Linked DNA regions of Homo sapiens. The protein of the gene in region 1 interacts with the protein of each later gene in a pairwise test. Each region holds a gene or a part of one and is shown in the gene's direction. Other genes may lie near its edges.

Region 1 (7,056 bases):
TCACCCAGGCTTGAGTGCAATGGTGTGATCTTGGCTCCGTGCAACCTCCACTCCCGGTTTCAAGCGATCCTCCTGCCTCAGCCTCCCAAGTAGCTGGGATTACAGGTGCACACCACCATGCCCAGCTAATTTGTATATTTTTTAGTAGAGACGGGGTTTCACCACGTTGGCCAGGCTGGCCTTGAACTCCTGACCTCAAGTGATCCACCCTCCTCGGCCTCCCAGTGATGGGATTACAGGCGTGAGCCACTGCTCCTGGCCCCCACTTCCTTTTGATTTCTCAGATCAGTCTTTCCCTTCTGAGCCATGGCCTTCTGTGCACCCAGCTCAGTGGCTCTTCACCCCTAAAACTAAGTGAAGTCATCCTTCCCCAAAAGGACCCCTGGGAGATGTTCTGGCCCTCTGCTGACTACTCCCAGGAATCAGCACCTCAAGGACTATTTGAGAATGTTGTGCTCTCTATTGGTCACCTTGAGACTCCGTTCCCCTGCTGCCAACTCTTCTCTTCTGCCCTGTGTATTCTGCTGTGATCCCCTTAACGGCTTTTCTGTGCTACTAGCTTAGCCCTAGGCCTTTTATGAATACCTGAGTCTTATAACAATGAACTTCTTGAGCAGGCAGTGTCCAACTTCTTTGCTCTTCAGGGACCTGAGTGTGCACCTTTCCCTTTTGCAGGTCTATTTGACATAGTAATCTAGTGTGTTGGGGAGGGGTAGCCAAGCAGGCTGCAGTGTCTGCAATGCAGAGGGCTTGGGGAGGTTTGGGTACTCTCTGCTGCCACTACTGGGATGATATTCAGAAGAGAGAGGACCTCATACTGTGACTGGACCCAGGACCCTCCCTGGAAGAGAGCTCAGCCCAGCTGTGTGTGTGTGTGTGTGTGAGTGTGTGTGTGTGTGTTTGTGTGCTGTGCTCATGTGCACCTGGGTGTAAAATGACTGTTATCTGGTTGTGTTACTCAGGGTGGGCTGGGGACTCACCAGAAGAATCCCCCCCAGCCTGCCCAAGACAGGTTTTTCCCTTGTACCATCTTCAGAGAGGTCAGGGGAAGAGGGTCCAGGTGGGTTAAGGGGGGTCGCTATGGATAACCACTAAGACCAGACTGCTGCCAGGAGGAGTGGGGGATAATGAGGTGGCCCCAGGGTCCTGGCACCTGGCTTTGGTTTTCCGTCTTCTTTCCTCAGGACGCCCCTGAGGCCTGGGACCTGTGCCTGGCTTCGAGGAGCATCTGTGGCTGGGTGATCCAGCTGCTGGTGTGATCATGGGCTTCCCTCCTCTCAGCAGGGCAGGCGCTCCTGCCCCAGAGACTGGGCAACTGGCTGTTTCTATGACGTATTTATTTTTACTTGTGTTTCATGTCACTTTTTTAAAAAAAAGCAAACAGAACAATTGTAAGTCAGTATAACTGCCTATCAGTTTTCTTTATTTCTCTTTTTGTAAAATAAAATTTAAACTCAAGAAGGCAGTGTTGTTTGATCAAGGAATTGTCTGGATAGTTGTTTGGCTGGGTGGTGGTGAAAGGAATAGATCTTAGAACATAGTGGGCTCTGGGATAGCCCTTGGGTGATGAGATAGGCAGGAACAGAAGGAAGACTGATGGCAGGCTCTTTGTTGCAGTGGGGTTCACTGGGCTTTTTCTGCTTTTGTTCACCTGAAGAAGGATGTATTACCAGGCTCCAGGGGAAACAGCAAGCTGACTTCAGAGTGGCTTGAAGCTAGCTGGTCCTCAGCCAAGGCAAGTCCTGCAGGGGCAGCCCTGACTAGACAGTGAGTGGCTGGGGATTGGGCACAATGCCTTCAGAGGGTGGGAGACAGTGTGTCTGTGAGTGGCTGGTGGCAGCGAAAACATTCTTATTGCATGTGTATTCTCTGTCATCCATGTTGGGGAATCTAGCCACTGGCCCACAGAGTTAAACAGAGCTTTGGAGTGTGAGAGGTGGGGGAAAGAAGGGACAGTCTACTCCAGCTTCCTGTTTAATTTCTTCAAGGGGAGGGGCCCTGGGGAAACAATTTTCTGGAAATTTACAAAGAAGGATAGAGAAAGAATCTCTGTAGTGATTCCTTGGACAGAGGAAGGCAAGAGGAGATGAAGGCCAAGTCTGGACTCATGATAGGGGAATCTGTGCTATTGGGAGATAAGATTGGGAGTGGAGGATGGTTGCAGCACATGGCTGGGCGAACAGGTTTCCTCAGACCTGTTACAAGGGGTTGGAATGAAGAAAGTGCCTTGTAGAGTAGGCTGCTGCCTCCTGGTGGCCAGCCGCTGCCTTGCAGGGATCCTGCCAAGGGACCTCACTTGGCACTGTTGGAAGCAGCCTGAGGTGAAGCTGGGCAGGCTGATGTCATGGCCTGCAGCCCCAGTCACCAGCGGACTCTCCTCCCACAAAAGAGGTGCTGAAGCTCCTGAGGCACATGTTGAACTCTGATGTGGGGCTCTAGAGTTCCCCAATCAGGCTAAGGGAAGTGAGCAGAGAGAACAAGATAAAGAATGGGCACTTCCTTATAATGGTTTCCTGGGAAAAGCTCACCACCTTCTGAGAAGCAGGAGAAATGACCACGCAGACCCTGCAGGCAGAGGCTGTCAGTCTCTGAGCCCGGGCCATGGCTGCTCCTTGTGTCAAAGGAAATGCTACCAAGTGTGTAGCCCGCCTGCCTGGGGCACCTAAGCTGAGGGTTTGACCATGTGCTTGATGTTCATAGGTAAAACAACTGCTGCGACCTGCACTGGCCCAGCCCGGAGTGCCTGTGAGGGGCCAGCTGCCTGTTCTGCCAGTTTGCCTAGAGGGCTGGGACAGGCTTGGCCCTGTGGATAAGGTTCAAACTCCCCTGCCTGCGGAAGGAAGAATGTGAAGCAGAGGGAAAGGAAGCTGGGATTTTGACTGTCTCTGTGTGCCCAGCCTGCTCTTTGCTGGTGCAGTAGTGGGATCCACAAGGTGAACCACCCTGTGACTGCTGACTTTTCCCACCACCACCTTCGTGGTGTTCCCATCTGCTGGATCCCCCTCCCAAACATCAGTCCTTGTCAGGATACCAAAGTAGCTCTTGGCCTCGCCGGTCTTGTAGCCAAGCTTATGAGCATAGTTGTCACCTTCCCCACCTCCCACCAAAAGTCCGGGATTTTCACGAGGGGAGCGTTTTATCTTTGGGCCCCTAGAAGAGTGCTTTGTAGTTTGTAGGTCCTCAGAAATTTGAGGTGAAGATTGAACCAATCATCAAGGAGCTTACACTTGACGTGGGAATCACGTAAGTTACCGCTAAACCACAAAGGTAGACCAGCCTCCCACAGCCACAACCTGGGCACTGAGGGAGGAGCCTGGAAGAAGGGCATTCCCATGGAACGTGAACTCCAGGAGGGCAGAACCTTGGTTTTGTTCACTCTATCCCCAGCCCCTAGAACTGTCCTGGCAAGGAGTAATAATAAGTGTTGGATGGATGAATATACTCACGGAAGTGGGAATGGGTGGGTGGAGGCAGGAAGCAGATATTTGCGCTATGCAGAAGTTGGATCCACCAGTTTCTTCCGCGAGCCCAGACTGGGCTTCAGCTTCCTCACCTATGCCTTTCTTGGTTCCCAAGTCTGTTGCGAAGCCACAGTGAGAGAAAGTGGCAGGACTAAAGGTGGTACAAATGCCAGAGGCTGATACTGCTGTGCTGCGCCTCCCTAGGCTGTACAAATTCTCCTCAGCCCCAGCTCCCTGGTCCCCAGCCTGGCCCTCTACTGCGGGCCACTGGGCTGCCTCCCGTACCCGAGCCTGGGCCAGGCTGTCACTGTGGTGCTCCTGCCAACCCAGATGCCCTGGGGTGTTGCTAAATCAACCTCAGCAACCGGATAGTTTGTTGGAGGCGGGAAGGTACGCCGTGGGTTCCGCCGCAGCCAGCGCTGGGGCTAGGCACACGCCCGTTGCCATGGAGACGGGGCGGGGCAGGCCTCCGCCCTCCGGGTCCCGCGCGCACGCGCCCACGGCCACGGCCATGTCCCGCCGCGAGAGGGGGCGGAGCGAGCGTGCGCGGCGGGCGCGCGCAGGCTCCGTAACCGAACCCTGAGCCGCCTGCGCGGATCGGCGTCCGCAGCGGGCGGCTGCTGAGGTGAGGGCCGGGCCAGAGGAGAGGCATACCCACTGGGGCGTAGGTCTGGGACTCCCCCTGTCCGCCCTGGCGCGACCTCAGGACTCTCCGTGTCCCCTCCGTGACCCCCGCGGCCCGGGCCGCTCTTTGCATCTTGTCTTGCCCACAGCTGGCCTCGGCCAGGTCCGAGGGCCTGGATGCGACCTTGGGGCAGCCCCTACTCTTCCGGGCAGCCCACTTCCGCGGCCACCGGTGCAGGGCATGCCCCGGGGCCGTGGAGGTGAGGGAAAGAGGCGCGAGTCGCGTTTTAACTCCGCCCCCGTCCCCCAAGGCCGCGCCTCGCAGCCTGGGCTGCAAACTTTAGCGTCCTTTAAGTTACAGACGTGCGTGGGGCTCCGTGAGGAGGTGGGCGAAGAGAAAGGCTCTGAGTAAATAGGCAAGGCCCGGGGTGAGCAGGGGCTGGAATCCGAAAGTGGGAGGCGGCGGCCCCCCACCCTCCATAGTCCTTCCGCCCTCTGCTAGCACCGAAGTTTAGCCCAGGACGGGGGCCGTTTAAGGGCCCGGCCCTCCGCCGCCGCGCACGTGAGCGGCACCAGGAAGCTGGCTGGGCGCAGCCTTCCCTGAGGCTCGCTGGCACCGGCCGCACGCGTCCATCCCGGGCCTCTGAGCGGAGGGGGAGCCGAGGCTAGAGGGAGGGCGCAGTCTGCCCAAGGTCAGCGGCAGCGGCAGTTTCTGGGCGCCAAGTGTGATTGGAGTACTCCAGGAAGAGGGGCGTGACCAGAGCTCTAGCGAAGAGACCTGACATTGTAAAGCTAGGTTTGGCTTCTGATTTCCACAGGGGGTTTGAGAATGGGACGAGGGTGCTTTAGAGGGACCGGTAGGCTTTCCCTGAGGACGGTAATCAGGGCATGATGGTTGGCTCAGTGGTTATTTCCTGGGCAGGGGTGACTGTTCTTTCAGCTCCCAGCACTGGAGCGCTCGGCCCCTGCCGCACTGGATGCCAGCAGTTACTAAAAGTGAGCCTGGCATTTCAGGTGAGCTCCCAGACCTTCTTCCTTTTCTCTTGAATATAGGGGAAATTCACGTTACCTCTCCACGTGCCGACCAAGGCTCTGAGACCCCCAGGTGGGTTTTCTTCCCCCCCGCCGTTTTCTGAGCAGTTTGGGAAGTGAGAGGAAGAGAAAGGTAGATACTAAGTTTCCTTGAGGAGACAGGAAGTGTTCAGCTGAGATGGCAGATCAGGGTGAGGGCTTGTCATTCCCAAGGCAAGTGGGGGCCTAGATGCTGAGAGTTTTCCAGCTTTGGGCTCAGAGATGTCCAACAAGGATTTAATGCTTCAGGCGTTTTGGAAGCCAGTCACCAGAGAGGAGAGAGAAAGTGGAAATGAGGGGCTGGAATCAGACTGTCTGGGCTTGTGTTGCCTGCATTTTGGTCCACGTGGCTCTGTTTAATACCTGTGTTACCTTGGGCAAGTCTCTTAACCTCTAACTACTTGAACCTTTAGCCTTACCTACCTCTTTGGATTGCTTTGAGGGTGAATGAAGTAGCTGTGTTTCAACATTTAGACAGTGCCTGGCGTATAGTAAGCATTCAGTGGAAGATTTCTCATCATTATCAAAGAAAATTGGAATGAAAGTTACTGGAGACAAGATGAGTAGGACAGGCAGAAAAGAGAGAGATACTGATGGGTAGAAGCACAGATGGGTGAGACTAGTGGGCAACACCTCAATTTCTTGACACCGAAAGTTTAGAAATTTACTTTGCCTCTTTGTGAGCAAATACTGTGTGCTCATTGACTCCAAAGACAATTTTTTTTTAGCGTAAAATCAACACCCAGCACCCACAGGGAAGAAATAATTCCACAGAGCTAAGTATTCCACAAAGTTGCAGCGTGGCCTTTTTAGCTTCAAAACCTTTTAAATGTTAAATATTACTTTTAAATAATTGGGGTGGGAATGTCCCCCCAGTGGGTCACATGGCTCCCTTCCTCTTTAAACAGTCTTCTCTGGGCTGTGATTTTTCCCCCCCGCCAGGCAACTCAGGTCAAGCCCTCTGTGTAAGAGGGTTAGGCCTCTGGCCCCAAGCTGCCTGGAGAACTAGGCAGCCTGCCTTGAATAGCTCACAGACTGGCCTCTGTGTTATGTTCCTGGGACTGCTCTTGAACAGCTTCTTTTCCTCTTAGGGATAATTGTTACTTCCTCCTGCTGTGCGACTCCCCTTTTAGCAGCCTTTTCCTCTTACTACTCACTGTTTCTTCTGTGGGCTGGAAAATTGGGATGAAGCTTGTTAACATTGGTGGTTCAAGTCTGGGAAGCTTAGTGTTGGACTTTGTTCTGCCTGCTCAGGCCGCTTTGCTCTGGTCTTTCCTCTGGTTCTGGATGGGTAAGCTTGCTGGATAGCAAGGTCCCTGCAGGCCAGATGTACTTAGAAAAGGAGAGTTTCTTATGAAATTCTCTTCCTGAGGCACATTTTTCCTCACAAGTTTTTGTTCCTTATGGTTTCCCTGTCGTTAGTAAGTGTTTGGACCCTAGCATTTGCCAGTCCTCCCTCTGGCAGTCGTCCCTGAGGCTTGGGGAGGCTGGGCTGGTGGCGTGGCTCAGCTGTGGGGAGGAAGAGGTAATGTGGAGGAAAGGCAGGCTGGCTGGTATCTGGTACATCTTCGGGGAGACTTGTCAGGGCCCGGAGTATGTCTCTGGCTGAATCACTCCTGTGCCCCTCTGTGACTCAGTTTCCCCAGGTGTGACCAGGGCTGCCAGCTGACAGTTTGAGCTGCTCTGAGATCCTCACCAACTGCGATTAAGAAATAAAGAGGCTTGTGGCTTCAGTCATCCTTGTAGCTCCCTTCCAGGTCACTCTGTGTGTAAACACCTCTGGCCCCTCCCCTTTCTGGGTCAGAGCACCCAAGGCAGGTCTGAGGAGGTTGGGCCAGAACTGGTTGGCGGGCAAGTGGGCACATTGTCAGAGTAGGCTACCAGCCTCCTCTCCCTTCTT
Region 2 (7,616 bases), on another chromosome or scaffold:
TGATTTGGGCACTTCTTTAAAGAATTACCTGGTGTGTAAATGCAAATGACGATGCTGAAAGTAAGCTTATGGCATGGGATGGAAATGATGTGATACGAGTTTTCTCAGGGTCCTTTGCTATTGCCATGAGGTTCCTGCTTCAGTGGTTCTTTCAATAACTAAGAAACTTTGCTAAGTAGTGCCCCAAAATGGTTGGCTGAGAGCTGGGTTGTCCTAGCAGTGAACAGGAGAGAGGATGGTACTATGCCTTCCTTTCTCTATCCCTCAGTTCAAATAAAAATCTGACTGTGTTCAGTTATCTACCTTCCTCTCTTTGGCCCTGTGCTTTAGAGAAGGGCTGTCCCAGGCACAGGTAATACATCTTGATTGGTTTAAAACCTGGCCAGTCATGGTGGCTCACACCTGTAATCCTAGCACTTTGGGAGGCTGAGGTGGGTGGATCACCTTAGGACAGGAGTTTGAGACCAGCCTGGGCAACATGGTGAAACTCTGTCTCTACAAAGACAAAATTAGCACGACGTGGTGGTGCATACCTGTAGTCCCAGCTTCTCGAGAGGCTAAGGCATGAGAATCACTTGAACTCGGGAGGCAGAGGTTAAGTGAGCAGAGATGGAGCCACTACACTCAAGCCTGGGTGACAGAGTGAGACTCTGTCTCAAACAAAACAAAACAAAACAAAACAAAACAAAACAAAACAAACCAGTTATGGTAGAACCATAGTTCTTGTGAATAATTGGTAGATATATGAGTATGTGACCAGGTTCTAGCCAATCAATCAAAGGGATAATCTGCTGCAGAACTCCTGGGAGAGGTTTGCTAGATCCTAAGAGAAACTCATAGGAGAAAATACCTTCTTCCTTTGGAAGTAATGGTAACTGAAAATGATGCTTGAATTTGCACAGCCATCTTGTGACCATAAGAGGAGGTACCTGAGTATAGTATGATTACTCATTGTGTGTGTCAGGAGAGTAAGGAGGAAAAAGAACTGATTCCTTGATATCACTACTGGGCAGATGAATCGCTATTCCTGGACTCATTGTTATGTGAAACATATTTGTTTTTGTGGCTCTTTGAGTGCATTTGCTAGTTTGCATAGGGAGGCCAGATTCAACTAATACAAATGTAGGGTTTGCAATTCAATTTGAATTTCAGGTAGACATTGAATAATTTTTTAGTATATGTATGTCCAGTGCAATATTTGTCCCATGCAACATTTGGGACATGCCTATACCAAAAAATAAAAAATTGTTGTTTATCTGAAATTTAAATCTAATGAGGTGTCTTGTATTTTATCTGGCAATCCTAAGCTTACAGTAGAAAGCAGTCTACTTAATTCAGTAATGAAAGGATTTTCTCAGGTCTTATTAGGTCTGTATACTCTTTTAGAAGTGAGGTGAAAGTAGATTTACCAGTCATAGTTTAAGTACACATATTTGAATTTCAGCTTCATATTCTCGAAAACTAACTTTAAAAAGTTCGAAAATTTTCCTCTTAAGTCTTGTCCAACCAGATTTGAAATTTTATTGTAATGCAGATAAACAGTGGAAAGAATCAGACAGATCTTAGAATCTCAGCTTCTTTATTTACTACCTGTGTGGGTCTGGCAAAAATCAGCTATCTGAATTGATTTCAAGTATCTCAACATATAGTTATGAGGAATTAATAAGATAAATTGTGAGAAGCACCTATTATGTCAGACACATGTAATTTGTTCAAAACACATTAGGTGTCTATCCCATATTAATTGTAAAGTACTGGCTTAGGAGTACTTGTGAGGGTCTTGTACTAAGAAGGAATAGCAACTCATACATCCAAACTCCTGTGTTATCCTTTTTCTCTCCACAACTTTAGCAGAATGAATAGAATAAGATATGAACAAACAAGCTGCCATACGGAGTGAGGAACTTGTATTCTCTTACATATAGCTGAGTTTTACTCCTGACACTGGGACTGACATGTATGTGATTCCTTGTAAATGCTTATTTTATTACTTTTTGATGTCATTATTATTGTTATTATTATTATATAATAAGAAAGGATAGTTTTGCCTTTTCTTGGAGGGTAAGAACTTGTCTTAGTATCTTCAGCATGAGGCACAGTAGATACCACCACTGAAATGATACTTATTGGAGAACACCTGGCCACAGAATTGGGTTCCTGACTAATGGGTAGTAAATAGACCATACAATTTTCCTAATATGTTATTACATATTCAAATTTTTATGTGCATATTATGATATTTCTATCCTCCTTTTGTTCACACACACAAAAAAACAGATCTCACAGAGAAAAATATAGAACCCTCAGAATGACAGCTGCGATGTGAAGTCTTACTGTGCTTCCACAATTCTGGGAAAGAGAAGAATTGGAGAGGGAGGGAAGAACAGCTGCCTTCAAGTAGTTGAAGGGCTGTCATATGGGAGGAAGGCTTGCTCATGCCATGGACTCCAAGGGCGGAACTAAGGTTGAAGGGTAGAAGTTAAAAGGTGGTATGGTCAAGTTTAAGCAATAAAAACTGCCCATTACTGCAATGTCTCAAATGTGGTGAGGTCTCCTCTACTGAAATGTTGATTCACTGTCTCTGATGACCATTTATCAGGAATATTAGAGCAGTAACTACAGCTCTGTTTTCTTCTTAACTTGTAAAATGGGGATAATAATCCCAATTTATCGACTCACAGGAGAGGGATTTGATCCAACGAAATCTAAAGAGACCCTTTTGCTAGTTTTTAGGCAGCTGTAAAGCCCTCGTTGCAGGGTTTTCAAATTTTGCTGCAAACTAGAATTACCTTGGGAGCTTGGAAAACCCTGTGTGTCTAGGCCTCACCTGCAGAGACTCCGATTTAAGTGGTATCAGGCATGCCAGAGAATTAGGGTTGTTTCAAAGCTCTCCAAGTGATTCTCGTGTACAACAATTTCGAGAACCATTAAACTAGAGTACTAAGAGCCATTATTCTGGATTTTACTTTGGAATCTAGGTTGGACTACAGATGTGACGTTGAGCAACTACTTTATCTTGGATCTGTATTTCTTGTTTACCAGGAAGAAGAGGACATGCATACTTCTAAAGTAACTTCCTCTAGTATTTTATTACTTTAAGGCAGTTGACCCTTAAAGGTATACGAATTAAGGAAAGGGCACTTAACTACCTTCTAGGAGTAGAAGAGGATCTCTGCTTTGACACATGGGAATTGTTGGCACTCTTTTTCTCAGTTTTAATAGCAGTCATGGACTCCTTTCAATGCGGGGATGTTTATACCTCTCCGGGGAATGTATGGCACCAACAGCATTTGGATGGCTGGTTGTTTCAGCAGTCCTTTGCTTAAAATAGGCATGCACCCTAATTTGAGAAGAAACTGGCAGAGGATAAAAGTGGGTTTCTTTGCTCTTCCCCAGTATTCTAGAAGCTGCTTCATTATCAGAGTTGGAGTCATCTGATGGATAACTGGACATGTTTCTTGGTGTTTTTTTTGTGTATGGCTATACTTCTTTATACTCTTTTGGGTTGCTGTCTTACATACTGCTTAGTGACTTGCTTACCAATAATTTTCCTAGCCTAACCCAGGACAACCATGTTGTCTTTTGGTCTTGACTTTTCCATATGAGACTGCATGTCTTATTGTCACTCCAGTCATGCAGCAACTAACTCTAGACAGGCAGTCATGGACATAGGATTCCATTTTTTTTTTTTTTTTTTTTTCTGCAAGGAAATCCAAGGACTCCAGTTATTAGGTCAAAGATGTTGCTCGTATTCCAGGTAATTCATATTTGCTGGTGAAGTTTTATTTGCCATGCAGTGCCCACAAAAGTAATCCTAGAAATGAGCAGTACTGTGAGGCATAGCACAACACATCCACATTTTATGTGGAGGATATGATCCAGTGGCATTTTATTTAGTGTGAAACTTCTGTCTTCTAAAAGGGAAGATTCTTTTGGAAGGATGGTCTCCTGCTGTGTAATACTTCATGAATTTCTAGTTTAAAAAAATTAGATTTTCCAAAGATCCACTACTATGTACACATTTCAAAATAAATCACCCAGTTAACTCAAAACAATCTTATCGTGAGAAATTTTGGAAAGCTTGAGTTACTTCTAAGAGTTAAAAATGTTCTTTCCTCCTCTTCTGCATGTCAGACTGCACATGATTACTCTGATGTTTCCGTAAATGCTATTAGTGCACTATGAAAGTGGGAAAGAACTTAAAAAAAAAAAAATCCGGGAGGGCAACAAAGCAATAAGAAGGATCATAGGGCACCATGTTAATAACAAATCACAGGAGGTGGCTCCATAAAGGTTGTGAAAACTAGTTTCTCATTGCAGGAATTGGGTTGGGCCACCCCTTCACCCCCCTTCTCAAACACAAATATTATCATATAATAAAAGCCTGCTTCTCTATGCTTATAACCCAGCCTCCATTCCTTCGACGCCACCATTTTAAAGGGATTTACTGCACGGACTTCTCCCAAGTTCCTAGGCATTATCTTCTGGACCCTATCCTGCAGAGGTGAAGCGTCCCTTTGGGGACTCTCGCTGGGTGAGAGGGACAAGAAACACCCACTAGGACCCAACCCCGGCAGCCAGCGGCTCGAGCATGCGCTGAGAGTTTGTGCAGCTGGCCCTGGCTGCCGCCGCTGCCTCGTCCGGACTCGGAGAGGACTTGGGAGGGACAGCGGCGCTGGGAGGTGGCTTAGCAGAGACTTTCCAGCAACTGCTGCCCAGGACTTTTTTTTTTTTTTTTCTTTTTCCCAGGAGGCGGCGACGGCGGCGGCGGGGGGAGAGGAAGAGAAAGAAGCGTCTCCAGCTGAAGCCAATGCAGCCCTCCGGCTCTCCGCGAAGAAGTTCCCTGCCCCGATGAGCCCCCGCCGTGCGTCCCCGACTATCCCCAGGCGGGCGTGGGGCACCGGGCCCAGCGCCGACGGTAAGTGGCCACGCGTCTGTCGCCTTTCCTGCCCGCTGTCCCGCCAGCCCGCCGGCGGCTGCCCTCCGCGCTGTGTGCTAAACTACTTAAGGGCTGGCTCTGGGGCTCCCTGCCGCCGGCGCTTCCCCTCGCGCCCTGCCGGGGGCGCGCGGACGCGATGGCTGGGTCGGTGGCCGCGCTCGCTTTGTGCTCCGCGGGCGGCTTTGAGCGAGGGGTCGCGGGAGCGTCCCGGGCGGGGGAAGCGGGGTTTGAATGACTAACCCGGCGTCTGCACAGCTGCATCGGCCCTAATTCCCCGGCGCCCCCCGCCCCCCGCCCACTGTCCCAGGCTAATCCATCATTCTGGGGCCGAAAACATCATTTCTCACGTTCTCCCAGAGAAACCCTAGTAGCCGGGCGGAATCTCAACTCCGCGCTGCCCCCTCGCCCCCGCCCCCGCCCCCGCCCCGCCGCCCCAGTCCCTTGCATTCACACCCGAGCTGCGGGACGGGGTAGAGGGGTGCGGAGTTGGAGTGCCCAGGAACTGTCCTAACTAGAAGGGCGCTCATTCTCTCGGGCTTGCCGGTGGCGCCTCTGACGTGTCCGGGGTAGGGGGCAGTGTGGTTTCTCACCTTCAGGACAGTGCCGAGCACAGCTGTCCTCGAGGAGGGGCGTGGAGTGAGGGAGGTTTTCAAGAGCGTCTCATCAGAATGCACAGGGCTCCGCCGCGTGTCCCCTGAGAACGCGAGTTTACTGTGCGACTTCATTCATCCGGATAGTTGCTCTTTTCTTTTCCCAGCAGGTGTTATCTGAAGCCGGTTTGGAACTTTTGGGAGTTTAGTTACCATTATGATTTTAACAAATGATTTTTGATGAGGCGATGTCTCGAATGCACTGGGCCTCGGGACCCTCTGGACCCTGCTGAGGGCGGGTGGAGGAGGGACGGGCAGGCTGTGGGAAGCGTGATGGTGAGATGTCCCGTGTTCTCTCTCCCCCGCCCCCTGCAGATCGCTGCCGTTTTGCCCTTGGGAGTAGGATGTGGTGAAAGGATGGGGCTTCTCCCTTACGGGGCTCACAATGGCCAGAGAAGATTCCGTGAAGTGTCTGCGCTGCCTGCTCTACGCCCTCAATCTGCTCTTTTGGGTAAGTAAGTTTCACTGCACCAACAGGTGGGAACGGCTGGCTCTGGTTTTCTGCAGCCACCGGATAATGCGCCAAAGGGCATGGCTAAGCATTAATTAATTACATGGGATAACACCCTTTATTTTTCAGAGAAGTAAAATTTGACCTTCTTAAAATGCCTTTGATCTAGCTCAAGTTCCATTTGTAATTAGAACAAAGAAATCCACCCCTGGATACTACTGGCAGTAAAATTAGACTTGAAGTTAATCTAGGGATATAAATAAATGCACGTGCTTCTACTCATAGATAAGAAAATTATGACATACTACTTAGGGAACTGCTTGTTTGCGGGAATTTTAGATAATTGTGCAAGCCATAAATTGTTTCTTTACATCTCTGTCGCCTGTAAAATCTAGTTGGGCCAAGTCTTAATATATTTTTTGTGGGCGGGGACGAGGGGGAGGTGGTGGTGGAATTCACACCCAGATAACCTATCACAGAAAGGCTGAGTAGATTTGTCTAGGGGATTCCATACGGTCTGAAGGGTGATTTTTATGTAACTAATTCTAAGTTGGCAAAGTTTAAGGAATTGTGTGTATGCTTTTGGAAAATCCCATAACCATTTAAGGAAATAAAATACATAAAATGTAACAAGCTCATGGAAATCTTTATGCCCTATGAGTTAATGACTTTTTATGCTTTAAATCTTAATAAAGTATGATTAATAATCGTATTATTACTTATAAAACTTAGGAAAATGTAACAATTTAAACAGTAAATGTTGCTTCAGGAGGCTGCCATTCTTAAGCAAATTGTTCTTTCCATTTTTTTGTGTTCTATTAATAATTTTATTCAAAATTTTCTGTTACAAATTTTATTGTGCAATTTATTTATGTGGCTGACTGGCTGGCGTGCTGACTGGCTGGCATTGCCCAGCCTTTTTTTCATAGGGCTATTACATGTGGTCTCTAGAAGATGACATTTAGGTTGAACTGCACCTTATAGATGGCCCCATTTTAAAGGATAAATTAAGTCTTACTTCAGTGAGTAATCTGAAAATATCTAAAATGGCAGCATTCCTTTTCTCAACATTAAAGCATTAATTTCTCAAAATTAAAGCATTGGGTAGTTAAATTCACCATTTGGAAATGTAAAATCACAAGTTGATCTTATTGTAGTTTATACTTCTTAAAAGCTTGATTTTTAAGTGAATCATTAAATTACCTGGATCATTAAAAGTTATTAAGAGTTTAAACTCCATTTCTTTAAGATGTATGATAATTATCACTCCTGTTTACTAGTTTTTCACTTTTCTACATTGTGCTTTTTAATTATAGAATCATCACATTCCACTTCTAAAAGGAGCTTTAAAGATGGCCTGGTTGAACGTCCTTCCTTTGTGAGTGAGGAAATTAAGTGCAGATTAAGTGACTTGCCAAAGATCAGATAGTCCAATGGTGGCAGTGCCAGGAACAGAATTCAGCTTTCTTGCCCCTAGACAGTGTCTTTCACTTGACCCTTACTGAGTTTTGAACCTTAGAATTACTAAGATTGTTGTTGTTGTTGTTTAATAAAGAATAAAGCTTTGAAAAATTTG
Region 3 (6,739 bases), on another chromosome or scaffold:
TCTGTGTCATTGCCCTCCTGGTCTTCGTGTTCCAGCTCTTCACCATGGAGAAGGGAAACCGGTTCTTCCTCTCAGGGGCCACCACACTGGTGTGCTGTGAGTATCTCATGGGTAGACTCCAGTTTACACTTTTAAGTCCATCTTACCATGGGTGTTTCTGGCAACTTGAACAGATTAGCACATGGTTCAGTGAAACTTCCTTGTGCAATTTTCTCCTCTGGTTATTTGTTCTCTTGTGGAGAACCTTGGATTGCTGCTTAGGTTAAGAACCCTCATCTGCTTCATTGTTCAAAACCAGTGCTCCTGGGTAGCTACCAAGTGGCAGTGCATATCTGTTAGTAGCACGTGTGTACAAGACACTTCAAGAAGGCAGAAAGGTAGGAGTTCTCAGAAAGATGAAACCACTGCCACAATGCACATCATTATTGTGATTCTCACTTAATTGTTGTTCTTTCCCAATATACTCGGTTTGGTGGAAGGACATGCTCTTTTGCATCCCTGAGTAGCTTTCCTAGACCCACAAGGGCCAGACAGGACAGCTGGGTGGTAGGCATGAGGTTCTGTGTTTTACATCACAGCGTGGCCACACAAACCAGTGCAGACATGAGAGCCCAGACACCTCTAATTTATCAACATACCGTCGAGCTTGGCCCAGGGGACATCCATCAGAACTCCTGTTTAGGGACAAACAAGCAGAATTCATTTTCCTATTGCTAATGAGGGAAATAGGATCTTCTTAAAATTAGTAAAACTTTTTCTCGACTTTAATGTAAGAAAACACACCGACAAATCTCCTTTTCCCCTGCAGGGCTGTGCATTCTTGTGGGGGTGTCCATCTACACTAGTCATTATGCGAATCGTGATGGAACGCAGTATCACCACGGCTATTCCTACATCCTGGGCTGGATCTGCTTCTGCTTCAGCTTCATCATCGGCGTTCTCTATCTGGTCCTGAGAAAGAAATAAGGCCGGACGAGTTCATGGGGATCTGGGGGGTGGGGAGGAGGAAGCCGTTGAATCTGGGAGGGAAGTGGAGGTTGCTGTACAGGAAAAACCGAGATAGGGGAGGGGGGAGGGGGAAGCAAAGGGGGGAGGTCAAATCCCAAACCATTACTGAGGGGATTCTCTACTGCCAAGCCCCTGCCCTGGGGAGAAAGTAGTTGGCTAGTACTTTGATGCTCCCTTGATGGGGTCCAGAGAGCCTCCCTGCAGCCACCAGACTTGGCCTCCAGCTGTTCTTAGTGACACACACTGTCTGGGGCCCCATCAGCTGCCACAACACCAGCCCCACTTCTGGGTCATGCACTGAGGTCCACAGACCTACTGCACTGAGTTAAAATAGCGGTACAAGTTCTGGCAAGAGCAGATACTGTCTTTGTGCTGAATACGCTAAGCCTGGAAGCCATCCTGCCCTTCTGACCCAAAGCAAAACATCACATTCCAGTCTGAAGTGCCTACTGGGGGGCTTTGGCCTGTGAGCCATTGTCCCTCTTTGGAACAGATATTTAGCTCTGTGGAATTCAGTGACAAAATGGGAGGAGGAAAGAGAGTTTGTAAGGTCATGCTGGTGGGTTAGCTAAACCAAGAAGGAGACCTTTTCACAATGGAAAACCTGGGGGATGGTCAGAGCCCAGTCGAGACCTCACACACGGCTGTCCCTCATGGAGACCTCATGCCATGGTCTTTGCTAGGCCTCTTGCTGAAAGCCAAGGCAGCTCTTCTGGAGTTTCTCTAAAGTCACTAGTGAACAATTCGGTGGTAAAAGTACCACACAAACTATGGGATCCAAGGGGCAGTCTTGCAACAGTGCCATGTTAGGGTTATGTTTTTAGGATTCCCCTCAATGCAGTCAGTGTTTCTTTTAAGTATACAACAGGAGAGAGATGGACATGGCTCATTGTAGCACAATCCTATTACTCTTCCTCTAACATTTTTGAGGAAGTTTTGTCTAATTATCAATATTGAGGATCAGGGCTCCTAGGCTCAGTGGTAGCTCTGGCTTAGACACCACCTGGAGTGATCACCTCTTGGGGACCCTGCCTATCCCACTTCACAGGTGAGGCATGGCAATTCTGGAAGCTGATTAAAACACACATAAACCAAAACCAAACAACAGGCCCTTGGGTGAAAGGTGCTATATAATTGTGAAGTATTAAGCCTACCGTATTTCAGCCATGATAAGAACAGAGTGCCTGCATTCCCAGGAAAATACGAAAATCCCATGAGATAAATAAAAATATAGGTGATGGGCAGATCTTTTCTTTAAAATAAAAAAGCAAAAACTCTTGTGGTACCTAGTCAGATGGTAGACGAGCTGTCTGCTGCCGCAGGAGCACCTCTATACAGGACTTAGAAGTAGTATGTTATTCCTGGTTAAGCAGGCATTGCTTTGCCCTGGAGCAGCTATTTTAAGCCATCTCAGATTCTGTCTAAAGGGGTTTTTTGGGAAGACGTTTTCTTTATCGCCCTGAGAAGATCTACCCCAGGGAGAATCTGAGACATCTTGCCTACTTTTCTTTATTAGCTTTCTCCTCATCCATTTCTTTTATACCTTTCCTTTTTGGGGAGTTGTTATGCCATGATTTTTGGTATTTATGTAAAAGGATTATTACTAATTCTATTTCTCTATGTTTATTCTAGTTAAGGAAATGTTGAGGGCAAGCCACCAAATTACCTAGGCTGAGGTTAGAGAGATTGGCCAGCAAAAACTGTGGGAAGATGAACTTTGTCATTATGATTTCATTATCACATGATTATAGAAGGCTGTCTTAGTGCAAAAAACATACTTACATTTCAGACATATCCAAAGGGAATACTCACATTTTGTTAAGAAGTTGAACTATGACTGGAGTAAACCATGTATTCCCTTATCTTTTACTTTTTTTCTGTGACATTTATGTCTCATGTAATTTGCATTACTCTGGTGGATTGTTCTAGTACTGTATTGGGCTTCTTCGTTAATAGATTATTTCATATACTATAATTGTAAATATTTTGATACAAATGTTTATAACTCTAGGGATATAAAAACAGATTCTGATTCCCTTCATTGTGTGAATGTTTTTTTCTAAAAAAAATGTGGAGAAATATGGATAATTATGACATTTATCCCTCATTAAGCTGCCTATCAGTTTGATTTGGACAACTTGACATTTATTTGAGACATTAAGCTACTTTCTGGTAATATATTAGGCATTTCTGCAATAGCTCTTTCAGGTAACTGAATATTATTAAGCATAGTTTTATCTTGCTTTGATTAAACCTCTTAGGCAAAAAATGGAACTTCATAAGCTAATACATTAGAAAGGGGTTATGATTATAAATCAGAAATGCTTGTGACATTAAGAAATGAGGCACTTGTGAAATTTCTTTGAAATAGCCAGCTCCTCTAATGTGTCTTCAAAATATAAAGTGATTCACAAAGGCATGCATCACACCTATTTGTAGCAGCCCATTCATTACATAAACCAGGGCATACCTGTGTGGGCTCTGTGAGTGAAGGGAGGCTTCACTACTTTCTGTGAGCAGTAAGGACTGGTATCTTTCTGTGAGCAATAAGGACTGGATAAAGACTGCATATCCTTGTGTCGTGTCAGCACCAATACAATAAGGAGGGTTTTAATGTGAAGCAGGCAATCTTCCAGCCCCTTCTGGTCTTGGATGAAATAGTTGCACAGAGTATTGCACCAAAAATACACAATGGAGGCTGAAAAGTTCAACATATTTTAAGTCAATTAATCAAATTGCATTGATTCTTGATGCTTTCTTAGAGGCCTACATGATTTCTTAGATTGCTCTGATAAACTATCATAAGGGGTCCACCTCCCCTCATTTAGCTCCCCCAGGGATTTCTTTTCCCCCATGTCATACACCCAGTCCTAAATCAACCCCCAAGGCTATCCTTCCATCCCTTCTGCAGAGGGAACTTTTGTCAGACTCTGCAACAAACTCCTAGCTCTATCCAGAGTGTCCTCTGCTGCTAAGATTGGTATCTTTCTCCTCAAAAGCCTGGATGGTGAATGGGGGTGCATTAGTCAGAATTCTCCAGAGAAACAGAAAAAATAAGATTCGCGTGTGTGTGCAAACATATATATAAATAAATAAAAATATATTTATTTTAAGGAATTGACTCACATGATTTTGAAGGCAGGCAAGCCCAAAGTCTGCAAGGGGTGGGCCAGCAGAGAGCTGGTGCTACAGTGCGGGTCTGAAAGTTGCCAGAGTCCCTTTTATAGAGAAGCTTAAAAAATATTTGTTGAATTAAATGTCTTAGGTAGAGACAAATTGAATTAAAGTGGTTAAGTAAATACTCTTAGGTGAAATTTGTGCAAATTATGAGTATAAAGAGGGTGAGCTACAGAACTCTCCATGACCACTCAAGAATGGGACCCAAAGGCAAATGATAACTTATTCATTCATCAAGGGATAAACTTGAGTTATCAAATGGTTAATAGATAAAGATCCCACTCTGCCTTGGATTTAGCCATCGCAGTCCCTGTGTAAAACCCCACCGGCTTTCAGGCATGGAAAAAAATTTCACAAAGGCCTTGAAAGAAGGCATATGAAGACCAAAAGGATATTGAGCAGGGTTCCATACTTGAATAAAGGAAGAAACTCCCTTCAATGTTTACTAAGAAATAGTTAGAATATAGCATATCCTGTATAGATGAAATGTCCTAGCGAAAATGTTTAAATGTATTTAAAGAAGAGCTAGATTTTGTGGGGGGAGAGAAGGGAATAGGATAGGCTGGTGGGAGGAAGAATGAAAAGAAGAAAACTTGTTGGAAATTTTGGAGTAGATTGTGAGGAGGGGTGACTCACTTTAAAGATGTATCATTTGGAGGTAGACACGATTTTCAGAGCACAAAACAGATAAGGAAAGATGTATGCTGATTGTGTGGAGCCCAAGGGAAGGCGGGGTTTTGGAGTCTTACGTGGCTTTGTTTCTGAAAGGGAGACATGTGAAGCCTACTCCTGAGGCGGGAGGCTGGGGACATGACCATCAAGACCTATAATTGATAAACAACTAGGGGCTGGGTGCTGCACCTACATGCTGGGGAAATAGAAAATGAAGCAGACATGTGTCCCATCTTCTTCCAGCTTTCAGTCTAGCTTGGAAATAAATCTCATACCTAGAGAAAATGGAGGATCTGTGGGATGTAGATGAGGTGGGAGCATGAATGCCTAGGGAGGGAAGAAGAAAGATTTTCAGTTCTTCAGCTTTTCCTCATGACCCTATCTCATGCCATGAGCAATTGTCTGGCATCTCCTGTGGGTTGGACCACTGCTGCATTTCTTACTTGCCAACATCACTTTGTCCCAAATGCCATTCCTTTGTTCCAGGGCCTCCTTGTCTTCCATCTGGGGAACTGGAGGTGAGAAGCATTATAATAGCCTCTCTGCCTTTATCTACAATCTCTCCAACCTGTGCTTTATGCTGATGTCAGGATGGGCGTTGATGGATGCTTCTATCACTGTCGGGGCAGGGAGGGCCAGAACACTAGCATAAGATGTCAATATGTCTATCCATATGTCAGGTCCATACTCAACTCAAGCTTCTGGTTAACTGCTGATCTATTGGCAACTCCAGTTCCCAATAAGTTCCTCATCTCCTTCTGAGACCACCTCAGTGTGGACTTAATCGTCCACATCACTGTCAGCATTTTGGTTAAAACCATTCAACAAGTCTCCAGGAAGCTCCAAACTTTCCTTCATCTTCCTGTCTTCTTCTGAGCCCTCCAAACTCTTCCAACCTCTACCCGTTACCCAGTTCCAAAGGTGCTTCCACACTTTCAAGTATCTTTATAGCAATGCCCCACTCCTGGTACCAAATTCCTGTATTAGTCTGTTTTCACACTGCTATGAAGACATACTTGAGACTCGGTAATTTATATAGAAAAGAGGTTTAATTGACAAAAAAGCTAACAAAGTGAGCCCTGATTCAAAAATGACTGTCTACACTTGGCACATGAGGGACTTTATGATATTAAGAGATTAATTAAACAACAGTGGATGGGGAGGAAGAACAGACTTTTGAGCTCTTCCCAATATAGGAATGTGTTAGTTCTAAAAATTTTCTTAAGTTGTTTGCTTGGAACTCAGAGTATATTTTTCCATACGAAAAATTCAGAACTATTTTATTTATGATATGGGCTAAAAAGACTTCTGTAATCTAGCTTGGAAACTTAATAATCATTAAACTTATTTTCAATGAGATACGACTGTTTAAATTCTGAAACCTGGAACCCTCTGTTGCCCTGCAAATGCTTTAGGAAAAGAAGAGTGTGTCTGATGGAGGATAAGATGGAAAGTGAATATGGATCCATATTCAGAAGACACGGTTGCATTACAGCAAAGGAACAGCTTTTTGCTGGCCATGCTAAGCATTTGACATTGATGTGGGAGAACATGGCATTCAGTATGACTCTGTCTGGATATATATAGTTTTGTAAATTGGGTGTTCTTAAGTTGAGACTGCATGTTTCATTCCAAAATCAATCTTAGTTTTCCCACTTGCATTAGCATATTGTATTAGTCCGTCTTCACACTGCTATAAAGACATACCCGAGACTGGGTAATTTATAAAGAAAAGAGGTTTAATTGACTCACAGTTCTGCATGGCTGGGGAGGCTTCAGGAAACTTATAATCATGGCAAAAGGGGAAGAGGTACGTCTTACATGGTGACAGGGGAGAGAGAGCATGCAAGAGAAGGGAAAACTGCATTATAAAACCATAAAT

Evidence for each region. The genes of interacting proteins can lie anywhere in the genome.
Region 2: the proteins of TEX264 (region 1) and TSPAN12 interact in binary tests that used the Homo sapiens proteins (3 or more experiments, as listed by UniProt).
Region 3: the proteins of TEX264 (region 1) and EMP1 interact in binary tests that used the Homo sapiens proteins (3 or more experiments, as listed by UniProt).

Annotation. Positions count from the first base shown.
Region 1 is NC_000003.12:51,667,203-51,674,258, forward strand, and holds the start of TEX264 (testis-expressed protein 264), read left to right. Parts: upstream 1-4,049; 5' UTR 4,050-4,086; exon of another isoform or gene 4,087-4,262; coding exon of another isoform or gene 4,263-4,345; intron 4,346-4,424; exon of another isoform or gene 4,425-4,501; intron 4,502-4,675; exon of another isoform or gene 4,676-4,777; intron 4,778-4,851; exon of another isoform or gene 4,852-4,881; intron 4,882-5,007; exon of another isoform or gene 5,008-5,099; intron 5,100-5,138; coding exon of another isoform or gene 5,139-5,190; intron 5,191-7,056. UniProt on the Homo sapiens protein: Major reticulophagy (also called ER-phagy) receptor that acts independently of other candidate reticulophagy receptors to remodel subdomains of the endoplasmic reticulum into autophagosomes upon nutrient stress, which then fuse with lysosomes for endoplasmic reticulum turnover.
Region 2 is NC_000007.14:120,855,122-120,862,737, reverse strand, and holds the start of TSPAN12 (tetraspanin-12), read left to right. Parts: upstream 1-4,593; 5' UTR 4,594-4,918; intron 4,919-5,529; exon of another isoform or gene 5,530-5,903; intron 5,904-5,904; 5' UTR 5,905-5,974; coding exon 5,975-6,040; intron 6,041-7,616. UniProt on the Homo sapiens protein: Regulator of cell surface receptor signal transduction. Plays a central role in retinal vascularization by regulating norrin (NDP) signal transduction.
Region 3 is NC_000012.12:13,213,726-13,220,464, forward strand, and holds the end of EMP1 (epithelial membrane protein 1), read left to right. Parts: coding exon 1-96; intron 97-808; coding exon 809-966; 3' UTR 967-6,216; downstream 6,217-6,739.